2 separate regions of the Homo sapiens genome follow, and region 2 is linked to region 1. A link means that fine-mapping ties the variant in region 1 to the plasma level of a protein whose gene starts in the linked region. Region 1 holds a variant in brackets. A gene starts in the other region. All regions are shown on their forward strands. Region 1 overlaps LHFPL5 (LHFPL tetraspan subfamily member 5). Region 2 holds the start of SEMA3G (semaphorin 3G).

The links. PIP is the posterior inclusion probability: the model's chance that the variant is causal. The UK Biobank Pharma Proteomics Project read protein levels with antibody pairs (Olink). The fine-mapping took linkage between variants from a reference panel, not from the people measured, so its PIPs are less certain.
Region 2: it holds the start of SEMA3G, and the variant in region 1 is fine-mapped to the plasma level of the SEMA3G protein (UK Biobank, PIP above 0.99).

What each region holds. Positions count from the first base shown.
Region 1 is chr6:35,806,935-35,814,934 of GRCh38, forward strand. It overlaps LHFPL5 (LHFPL tetraspan subfamily member 5), which reads left to right. Exons shown (of 4, transcript NM_182548.4): 2 at 7,612-7,848. Among named protein-coding and RNA genes, the nearest start is that of LHFPL5, 5.6 kb to the left of the region's middle. The variant C/T (reference allele first, on the strand shown) is at 4,448.
Region 2 is chr3:52,442,433-52,445,499 of GRCh38, forward strand. SEMA3G (semaphorin 3G) reads right to left here and starts at 2,671. Exons shown (of 16, transcript NM_020163.3): 1 at 2,481-2,671; 2 at 315-475; 3 at 127-189. The coding sequence starts at 2,595. RefSeq lists enhancers at 1,768-2,644, 2,645-3,067.

The sequences.
Region 1 (8,000 bases):
TCACATCAGCCTCCCAAGTAGCTGGGACTCCAGGTGCGCACCACCATGTCTAGCTAATTTTTTTTGTATTTTTTGTAGAGACGGGGTTTTGTCATGTTGCCCAGGCAGGTCTTGAACTGCTGGGCTCAAGTGATTTGCCTGCCTCAGTCTCCCAAAGTGTTGGGATTTCAGATGTGATCCACAGCACCTGGCCTAGGGTCCTTTAAAACAATGTGGGGGCTGGGCACAGCGGCTCACACCTGTAATCCCAGCACTTTGGGAGAGAGCATCACTTGAGCTCAGGAGTTTGAGACTAGACTGGGCAAGATGGAAAGACCCTGTCTCTAAAAATAATAATAATAATAATAAATAAAATAAAACAAATAAAACTGTGGGGTAGGCAGCTACTTGTGCCTTGAGGCAAAACCTCCCTGGTCCTTTTTCCTGCTTCTAGCTCAGGAAGGCTTCTTGGTCCTTGTGCCAAGTGGTCTTGCTCTTCTCTGTAGCCCAGGAAGAGGGTTAAGACCTTGTGCTGCAGCCTCTGGTACCTTGGTCCCTGCACACCTCAGGGGCCACAAACTGTCCATGTCGGTGAGATGTCCAGGAGTAGTGCCGGGGACTGGAAACTAGAGTGAAACCATCTCATTGGTCAGAATGAGAAGTGCTGTCATCTTTAAGAGGGAGACTGAAACAGGCATCTGAATCCCAGACCACCAAACATGCAGATTCAAGACTGCAGAGTTGGAGGGGACCCCAGAGAGCTATATCCACCCCCCAACTATAGATGAGGAATCTGCTGCTGAGAGAAAGGACCAGACTTGGCCAAGGCTGTAGCAGATCAGCAGGCACCTGAGGACCAGGAAGAATTAAGCGGGCAACTGAGGACCAAGGAACTAGATGTATTCCTAAGATGTTTTTACTGAGCCACATATTTACATAAGTATAATGATCTATGAAATATCTTTACATATAATATCTGGAGGAGCCCCAGCACAACCCATTGAGGTGGGTATTTATCTATTTTACAAAGAAGGCCCCTAGTGGGTAACTTGTCTTTGAGCATACAAGTAGGAAGGCATGCACCTTTGATTCCAAATCTTGCACCCAGGCTACTCACATGGCTTCAGAGTTCCCAGCAAATCCCCTTGCCACCTCCCTGTTCTCTGTAGTCTCTCTGTATGATAAGAGAGAGGCCGGGGCAGGGGTGGGCAGTGGGGAGCAAGGTAGGTGGTGGCCATGTCAAGAATGATGGTGGGGGCAGGCACAGCGGCTCATGCCTGTAGTCCTAGCACTTTGGGAGGCCAAGGAGAGGGGATTGCTTGAGGCCAGAAGTTCAAGACTTCAAGACCAGCCTGGACAACATAGTGAGACCCTATCTCTATTTTATATATATATATATATAAATTAAAAATAATCATAATAAATAATATATATAAATAAAAATAATAATAAGGCCAGCTGCAGTGGCTCAGGCCTGTAATCCCAGCACTTTGGGAGGGCGAGGTGGGCAGATTGCTTGAGCTCAGGAGTTCGAGACCAGCCTGAGCAACATGGCGAAACTGTGTCTCTACAAAAAATACAAAAATTAGCTGGGTTAATAAAAATATTGAGTATATATATATATATTCTTTACTATATATTCATTTTATACATATATATATATATATATATATATATATATATATATATATATGAACAAAGGGAAAATGAAGATTTAGTAGTTTTATGCCAAAGAGGAGTGAAATAGACCCTAATATGCTTGCCAGCTCTTCTTCCCTATCAGGGTTATGGGATGCTGGAGACACAACCATCTCTCTCATTCTCAGGGCTGTCTGCAAACCCCCCTTCCCTGAAACATCCCCCAACAGGTGCCATGTGTGAGCAGGCAGTGCCAGGAGGGGGAGGGGTTGACAGGCCATCTGAGTCAGACACTATCTGGGTAGAAAAGCTGGAGACACTGATAGCAGAGGTGGCCAGGTGCCATCTCATGCAACATTTATGTTAGGGAAGGCAAGACTGGTGTCATGTTCCATTCTGCTGTGCTGCGGAAGGGGAAATGAGCCGAAGGGAGAGATGCAGAGTGGGCGGGTCCCATATCCAGCAGCTGGGAGATACATCTATTCATTAGTACCCTTGCCAAGAAGCCTGGGAACAGGGAGGGGGCAGGGGCAAGGAGGACTGATGCTTGGGCGATGTGGGGCTGCAGCTTAACAAGATTAATTGGGCTTCTGGGTGCCAGGTGTAGGCTGGGAGTTGTCCCAGCTCCTAGAAACACAGGTAGACCAAACTGCTTGTCTTCTCTGAGTCTTGGTAACCTCATGTCTTAGTCAGTTTTACTTAGTTCTATTTAGTCAGGGCTGCCATAACAAATTACCATAGATTAGGGGGCTTAAAACAACAGAAATTCATTTCTCACAGTTCTGGAGCCTGGAGGTCTGAGATCTGGGTGCCGGCATGGCATTAGCACGAGATCTCTGATGAAGGCCTCTTCTAGGCTCTAGACTGCTGACTTCTTGATGTCCTCACATGGTGAAAAGAGGATGACAGGGCTCTCTGAGGTCCCTTTTATGTATTTATTTGCATTGATGATTATTATTATTGAGTCAAGGTCTCAAAAATGATTATTTTTACCCAGGCTGGAGTACAATGGCATGAACACACCTCATTGCAGCCTTGACCTCCCAGGCTCAAGTGATCCTCCCTCCTCAGCCTCCCGAGTAGCTGGGACTACAGGTGCATGCCAGCACACCCAGCCAATTTTTGTATTTTTTGTAGAGATGGGGTTTCACCATGTTGCTCAGGCTGGTCTGGAACTCCTGAGCTCAGGCGATCTGCCTGCCTCAGCCTCCCAAAGTGCTGGGATTACAGGCGTGAGCCACCGCACCCGGCCTTATTATTGTTTTTAATTGACATAATAATTGTACATATTTATGGGCTACAGTGTGATATTTCGATACATGTATACAAGCTGGGCTTGAAATCCAGGCAGCCTGATCTAATGTTTCCTAGCTTTTCCTACTGAGAAAATGAAGGTAATTAGCATATCCATCACCTCAAACACTTAAAACATTTCTTTGAGTTGGGACGATTTCAAATTTGCTGTTCCAGCTATTTGAAAATATACGATAGATTGCTGTTGGTTATACTCACTCTACAGTGCTAAAGAACACTAGAGCTTACTCCTCCTGTCTAGCTATACTTTTGTATCCATTAACCAACCTTTAGCTGCCCCCGCTCCCCTCTGGGGTCCCTTTTATAAGGGTTCCAATCCCATTCGTGGAGGGCCCTACCCTCATGACCTAATCACCTCCCAAAGGCCCCACCTCCTAACACCATCACACTGGAGGTTAGGATTTCAACACAGGAAATCTGGGAGGAACAAACATTCCACTGTACCCCATCTGTAGAACATAGCAGCAGTACCCACTTCAGGGGGGTTCTGTGAAGATGGGATAATAGAATGCATGTAAAACACCTTGCACATGGTAAGTGCTCAGTACCTGTGAAAAACACAAAAAACAGGCTGGGCATGGTGGCTCAAGCCTGTAATCCCAGCATTTTGGGAGGCCGAGGTGGGTGGATCATGATGTCAGGAGATCGAGACCATCCTGGCTAACACAGTGACACCCCGTGTTACAAAAAAATACAAAAAAATTAGACAGGTGACATAATCCAGGATGCAACTGGGAAAGTCCCAGGCACAGCTGCCCTGTGGGCAGGGGATAATCCCCCCAAAAAATACAAAAAAATACAAAAATAAAAAATTAGCTGGGCTTGGTGGCGGGCGCCTGTAGTCCCAGCTACTTGGGAGGCTGAGGCAGGAGAATGGCGTGAACCCAGGAGGCAGAGCTTGCAGTGAGCCAAGATCGCGCCACTGCACTCCAGCCTGGGCGACAGAGTGAGACTCCGTCTCAAAAAAAAAAAAAAAAAAGAAAGAAAAGAAAAACACAAGAAACAACTATATCAGTGAGCATGAGAAGTGATGCCGTAGTAACAAACCACTCCCAAATCTTGGTGGCTTAGAACAACGGTTTATGTATTTCTTGCTTATGGTCCGTGCCAACCGGGGATCGGTGGGGGCTCCGCTCTCACTGTTGTCTCCTGGGACCCTCGCTAGTGGCATCAGTCACCATCAGCTGTCCTCGCATCAGAGGGAAGGGAACTCTGGGAGGTCTCCCACTGCAGCTAAGTGCTGTGGCCCGGAAATACACACATCTCTGCTCACATGTCATTGGCCAGAGGAAGGCAGATGGCCTCACTTAACCTCAAGAGAGCGGAGCAAGGAAGTACAACCTTGCCTTGCACCTGGAATATTCGTGAGCAGCTCTAATGGCATCCATGTCACTGAGGTGGCTTCTGTCTGACTCCAATGTCAATAATAATAGCAGTGACTAACATTAATTGGCCACTTTCCATGTACAAGACATCATAGTAAGCGTTTTCTGTAAATGATCACACTTAATCCTCA[C/T]AGTGCTGCTATGAGTCAGATACTTTACAGACAACAGGACGGAAGTCAGAGAGGGTAAGTAACCTGGCCTGAGAACACTGTGCTGGCTTCTGCTTAGAGCCTTGAGATGCCACAACTGGGGCTGACACCCACTGTCCCCAGAACCGTGGGTGGATGGGTAGAGTGCTCGCAGGGGACTGTGGCACCAACACCCTGTTTCCAGGTCAGAGGCCCTGGGCTTTTTTCCGGAGCCCCCACAGGAAGATGGTGCAGGAGGGGAGGGGCCACGGGAGGAAGTGATGGAGAGAATGCAAAGCCTGGAAGGGCAGCTCCTTCCCACCTTCACCTCTGCCCATGAAGCCAGGGGCCCTGCCAGGCACTGGAGGGCTGGACTCACATCAAGTCGGGGAAGGGCTGGCTACGTAGGTTTCACCACGGAGCTGTGGATGGCTCCCTCTCCTCCACCGTGGGTATCTTCCTGAACACTTAGTTTTCACTGAACACGTAGGAAGTCTGAAATGTCACCGCTAATTACATTCAGCCCCTGGGAGAGATGTCATGTTCTGGGGGTGGAGGGAATAAACTTTGAAGTCAGGAAAGTCAGGAATGGAGAACTCAGGCCTTGGCCCTGTCATAGCTGGATGACTGGATGGCTGGTAAGTCACTTGGTTTCTTTGAGCCCTCAGTTTTCTAATCTGTAAAATGAGGATATTAATAGCCAGCCCACTTCACAGAAAGGTGATCACAGTCAAGATGGTACATGAAGTATTTTGTGATCTATAAAGAACTATCTAAATAAGCTTCTCCTAAAAAAGATCAAAGGAAGCGTGATACATTTAGGTGGGGAGGTGGGACCCTGATTTTTCCATTTACTGTGCATTTGTTTGACCTCCTGACCTTCTTTGTAGAACAAGCTGGAAGCAGGGAAGGTAACTTTAGGCCTGAAGAGGTGCTTTTCTGAGGGTCTCCTGAGTAGGGTACAACCTTGGGACTAGAGAGCCTCCAGACCTGTGGGAAAGTGGCACAGATAAGGGGAGCACCCCCTGCCCGTGGGGCAGCTGTGCCTGGGGCTGGCTGCCCCAGTTGCATCCTGGATTATGTCACCTGTCTCTGCTTCACCCCAGCAAAGCTAAGGTGAGGGGATGGTTTGATGGAAAGGGATGGAAGAAGTGGGGGGAAAGTGGGGGCAACAGAATTTTTAGCTGTAAATAATAAGTCAAGTAAGGCACAGGGTGTGATAATAACTCTCACAGTCAACTCTTATGGAGTGCCAAGTCTGTGCCAGGCACTGTTCTACACTCTTTTCCAGTATTAACTCATTTGAACCTTGCTGTAACCACAACAGGAAGGTTAGGGTTATTATTATGTCCATTTTGTAGATGAGGAAACTGAGGCAAACAAAGCTTAAGTATGGCTGGGCACGGTGGCTCACGCCTGTAATCCCAGCACTTTGGGAGGCCAAGGCCGGCGGATCACTTGAACCCAGGAGTTCAAGACCAACCTGGCCAACGTGGCAAAACCCCGTCTCTATGAAAAATACAAAAATTAGCCGGGCATGGTGGTACATGCCTGTAATCCCAGCTACTCAGGAGGGTGAGGCAGGAGAATCACTTGAATCCGGGAGGCGGGTGTTGCAGTGAGCCGAGATCGTGCCACTGCACTCCAGCCTGGGCGACAGAGCAAGACTCTGTCTCAAAAAAAAAGAAAAGAAAGCTTAAGTTGCTTGCTCTGAGTCACATAGCTAGGTAGCAGAGAACTGGGTTTGAAATCCAGGCAGCCTAGTCTAGTGTTTCCCAGCTTTTCCTACTGAGAAAATCACCTGGAAGAGTGCTTTTGAAAACAGGGATTATTGAACCCAACCATGACCTAGGAACTAGCATTTTTTTTTTTTTTTTTTTTTTTTGAGATGGAGTCTTGGTCTGTTGCCCAGGCTGGAGTGCAGGGGCGCCATCTCGGCTCACTGTAGCTCCGCCTCCCAGGTTCACACCATTCTCCTGCCTCAGCCTCCCGAGTAGCTGGGACTACAGGCGCCCACCATCATGCCCGGCTAATTTTTGTATTTTTAGGAGAGACGGGGTTTCACCGTGTTAGCCAGGATGGTCTCGATCTCCTGACTTTGTAATCCGTCCACCTCGACCTCCCAAAGTCCTGGGATTACAGGCGTGAGCCACCGCACCCGGCCTCCAGGGGATTCTTAAATTTAGGGACGTGTAGCAACTGGACTATGCTGTACTGGGTAAGAGTGAGGAGGAAACCTGTTTGCTTGAATGGAAGGCTTTTGAAGGAAGCAGCCAGGGACAGTCTGGAAAGCCTTCCTGTATACATTAAATCTAAGATACCTGAGTTGTAGGACACACTGTTATTCTATGTACCATAAAAACAAAATATACTGATAATCTGGCCATGGCCTGACACTTTCTTTTTCCTTTTCCTTTTTTTTTTTTTTTTTTTTTGAGACGGAGTTTCGCTCTTGTTGCTCAGGCTGGAGTGCAATGGTGTGATCTCAGCTCACCGCAACCTCTGCCTGCAGGGTTCAAGCTACTCTCCTGCCTCAGCCTCCCCAGTAGCTGGGATCACAGGCATGTACCACCACTCCCTGCTAATTTTGTATTTTTAGTAGAGAACAGGGTTTCTCCATGTTGGTCAGGCTGGTCTCAAACTCCCAACCTCAGGTGATCTGCCCGCCTCGACCTCCCAAAGTGCTGGGATTACAGGTGTGAGCCACCACCCCCAGGCTAGACACTTTCTTATTGAGCTTATTTCACAGATGTTGTAAGTACGAAGAAATGTACATCTCAGCAGTGATGAGTTCTTTGGGCTGGGACTAGATACCGGAGGGCTTTGAAGCCAGGGTAGGTGGTGCCTGGTTGAGTCCAAGGTGAGGAGAATGGCTGAAGGCCTGGGAGGACCACCTGGTGTGGTGGCAGAGCCGGCCTGGGCTTAGGAGCTCAGCTCTGCCTCCGCCCCAACTACTGGGTCTCGGGGGCCAGTTGCTTTAACTCTCAGAGCCTCAGTTTTCTCACCTGTGTTCTGCAAGAAGGATGGTAGAGGCTGCCTCTCATGCCTCCTGAGGCTGTTAACAGAAGGAGAAGGGAGGTGACAACATAACAGCAGTGCAAGGTGTGGGAGGTAGCGGGCTAGGCACACTCGGCCTGATGCCATGTGCACCCCTCCTTCCCCCTCAGCCACAGGCCTAATGATTGGCTGCCTGGTCTACCCTGATGGTTGGGACTCAAGTGAGGTGCGGCGCATGTGTGGGGAGCAGACGGGCAAGTACACGCTGGGCCACTGCACCATCCGCTGGGCCTTCATGCTGGCCATCCTCAGCATTGGCGACGCCCTCATCCTCTCCTTCCTGGCCTTCGTGTTGGGCTACCGGCAGGACAAGCTCCTCCCTGACGACTACAAGGCAGATGGAACCGGTAATCACCCAACTCCACAATGGTGTCCCCTGCCTGGAGACCCTGGGATGTGGGTGGGGGTTCATCTTAGCCAGTCCTCTAAGGCTTGGTCCCTGGCCAAGGGATGGGGACACCAAGACTAATCAGACACACCCCTTGTCCTCCCTGAAATC
Region 2 (3,067 bases), not on the chromosome of region 1:
CTTCAAAAGCCCTCAAGATCTGCTCCAAATGCCCCTGGTAGAGGTACCTGGGGCGTGGTCACGGATTGTCCTGGGGGTCAGGGCAGGGTGTCAGGTCGGGGGACCATCCCTCCCGACAGCACTCACCAAAGGATCTCTTCCCTTTCGAACACACTCCTCCCTCTGTCCTGGCTGCGGTGGCCACAGGACCTGGAACACAGCCCCGCTGACCTCAGGTCCTCCCCTGATCTCACAGGCTCAGTTTCCCCATCTGGCCTCCCATCTGGAGGTGCCCAGTTCTCAAACAGACCCTCTTCCCTGCCAGTCCAGCTCACCTCCCGGGGATCTGGCCATGCCTGGTCCAGCCGCAGAGAGTAGAGGGCGTCCAGGCCACCCAGAAAGAGGCGGTCTCGGTACTCATCTAGGTACATGGCCTGGAGGTTCAGGGAGCCCTGGGGGCCCAGAAAGATGGCAGAGCGGTTGGCAGACAGGAGGTCTAGGAGGATGTATGGGGAGGCAGATCAGGGCCACAGCTCAGCCTAGTTCCCCAGCCAAGGAGTGGAGGTGGAGGCCCCGGCTGAGCATCCACCCCTGACACACTCACATCTGGAAAATGTTTCCATCCACATGGTGCTGGAAGGCTTTCGGACCATGGCTCCTGGGGACAGGTGGGACGGGAGGCTCAGAGCCTCCCACCTGGCCCAGCCTACCCTGGGGCCTACCTCCCACCCCTCCATTCCTTAGCCCTTCATCATGCAGCTAACATCTTCCCACTGTCCCATCTGTGCCCTACCCAGTCCCCAGGGAAGAAGGCCCCAACCAGCAGAAACTAGAGCAAAGTGCTGGAAGATCCTGGAGGAAGGGCGGGAGTCTTTGCAGGCCGCCTGGCTCAGCTGGAGGGTGGGCCAGCAGGCGAAACTGTTCCCAGCAGAGGGGACCCCTGGCAATGGCCTGGGTGCAGAAAAGGGAAGGTATGGCCGGGAAGGGCTCCCACCTCCAGTCCAGGGATGCGGCCAAAGACAATTTTCTCCCCACAGATGCTGGCTATCCCACCCCAGAGATGAGAGCGGGGAGCTGTCTGGGGACATCGGTCCCAGGAGTTGAGGATCCTGAGGTAGGTCCTCCGGGCTTGGCTAGGGAGGTGGAGGTAATGGGGGCAGTAGGATGTGGCAGGAAGAGGGTGCTGGCCACCTTTGGGAAGGCCCAGAGTGTCCTATGCCTTCCCTACGGAAGCACCTCTACCCAACACCCATTCCACCCCCAAAACTCATCAACGGTCTCTTCCGGGAAGCCCTCCATGGATGACAGTACCTTGGGGAACTTTCCCTATTTGGGGCTTTTTCTAGCAGTCTGACCTCCCCGCAAAACCACAGCTCCCGGAACAAGACCACATTCCCCTCAGCCTCTCCAGGGACGAGCGCCATCTCCCCCAGCAGACTGGGCTTCCCAGGGGAAGGTGGTCACCCCTCTGGTTTCCTCAGGAAGGATCTGCCAAGAGCCTGTCTCGGGCCTTCCCTGGGCCCATCCGTGGAGGCCTGAGCCGGCTCACATGTCTAGGGTAGAACACAGGAACCCCCAGGCTGGGATGTGCAAAAAGGGGAGGTGAAACTCCCCCTGGGCTGGGGCGCTTCTTGGGTGCAGGAGCACATGAACAAGCCCACTCTGGGAAGTGGGCTGCAAGGGGGGTCCTCCCCTTCTCTGTGGCCCCAGGACCAAGGGATAGCATGCTGCCTGCTCTCCCGTTGGCCACCCTGGGCAAAAAGTGCCAGTTGAGCCCAGACAGACCCTTCAGCCCCACCCTCTCTGTCACTCTCCCCTGCCTGGTCCCTTCCTCTGTCTCCTCCCCATCTTTATTGAGCTCTCTCAGGGTCTCCATCTGTCCCTTTCTCAGCACTCCCCCTCAGGTGCCTCCCACCGCCACCCTGGTCCTGTCTCCCAGGACCTGCCTCCCTCCCACTCCCCGAGAGCTGTGCAGGGAGAGGCTCCCTCCCCTACAGCTGACCAGGCACCCAAGAGCCCAAGCCACCCAAACAGGGCACACGCACACAAACAGGGCACACGCACCCAAACAGGGCACACGCACACAAACATGGCACACGCACACAAACTCGGCACACGCACCCAAACAGGGCACACGCACACAAACTCGGCACACGCACACAAACACTGCACACGCACCCAAACAGGGCACACGCACACAAACACGGCACATGCACCCAAACAGGGCACACGCACACAAACAGGGCACACGCACACAAACACGGCACACGCAAACTCGGCACACGCACACAAACTCGGCACACGCACACAAACACGGCACACGCAAACTCGGCACACGCACACAAACTCGGCACACGCACACAAACACTGCACATGCACACAAACACGGCACACGCACCCAAACAGGGCACATGCACACAAACACGGCACATGCACCCAAACAGAGCGCACACACACAAACAGGGCACATGCACACAAACAGGGCACGCAGGGGCTGGTACCTCGGTAGGAGAGCCGCAGGCGGGGCACACTGGGGCCGGGGCTGGGGCCAGAGCTACCCCCATGGAGCAGGAGGCCCCCTAGCAGCCAGCAAATGGCCCAGGCCGAGGGGGCCATGCTGGGGAACTGAGGGCACCGCTGCCGCCTGCCTGCAGAGCCGCCCTCTGGTCCCGCTGGCCGCCGGTTGTAGTTTGCTCTGCTGCCACCAGGCCACCACTTATAAGGCAGTGGCTCCACCCAGTCCTGGGCGGGAAGAGGGGCGGAGGAGAGAAGGAGGCTGGGGCCTTGCCGTCCACCTGCCGCTTCTCCTTCCACCTTGTTGGCCCAGTGCAGGCTTTTGTGCCACACTGGCCAGCTCCCCATTGGGAAGACCTTCCCAGCTAGGGCACAGGCCATGTGTACAGAGATGTCCACAAATGCAGGTCCCCAGGCTCCAGCAAAGTGACAAGTGGGGAGAGAGCCTGGAAGGGAGGTCAGGGATCAGAGGTTAAAGTTGATGGGCTGGGTAGGGGCCTAGCTGGGCTCTGCCTTGTTCTCTGCCCCTCCACTGCCCACAGCAGAGACCTTCCAAACTGGCCCTGCCCCAATT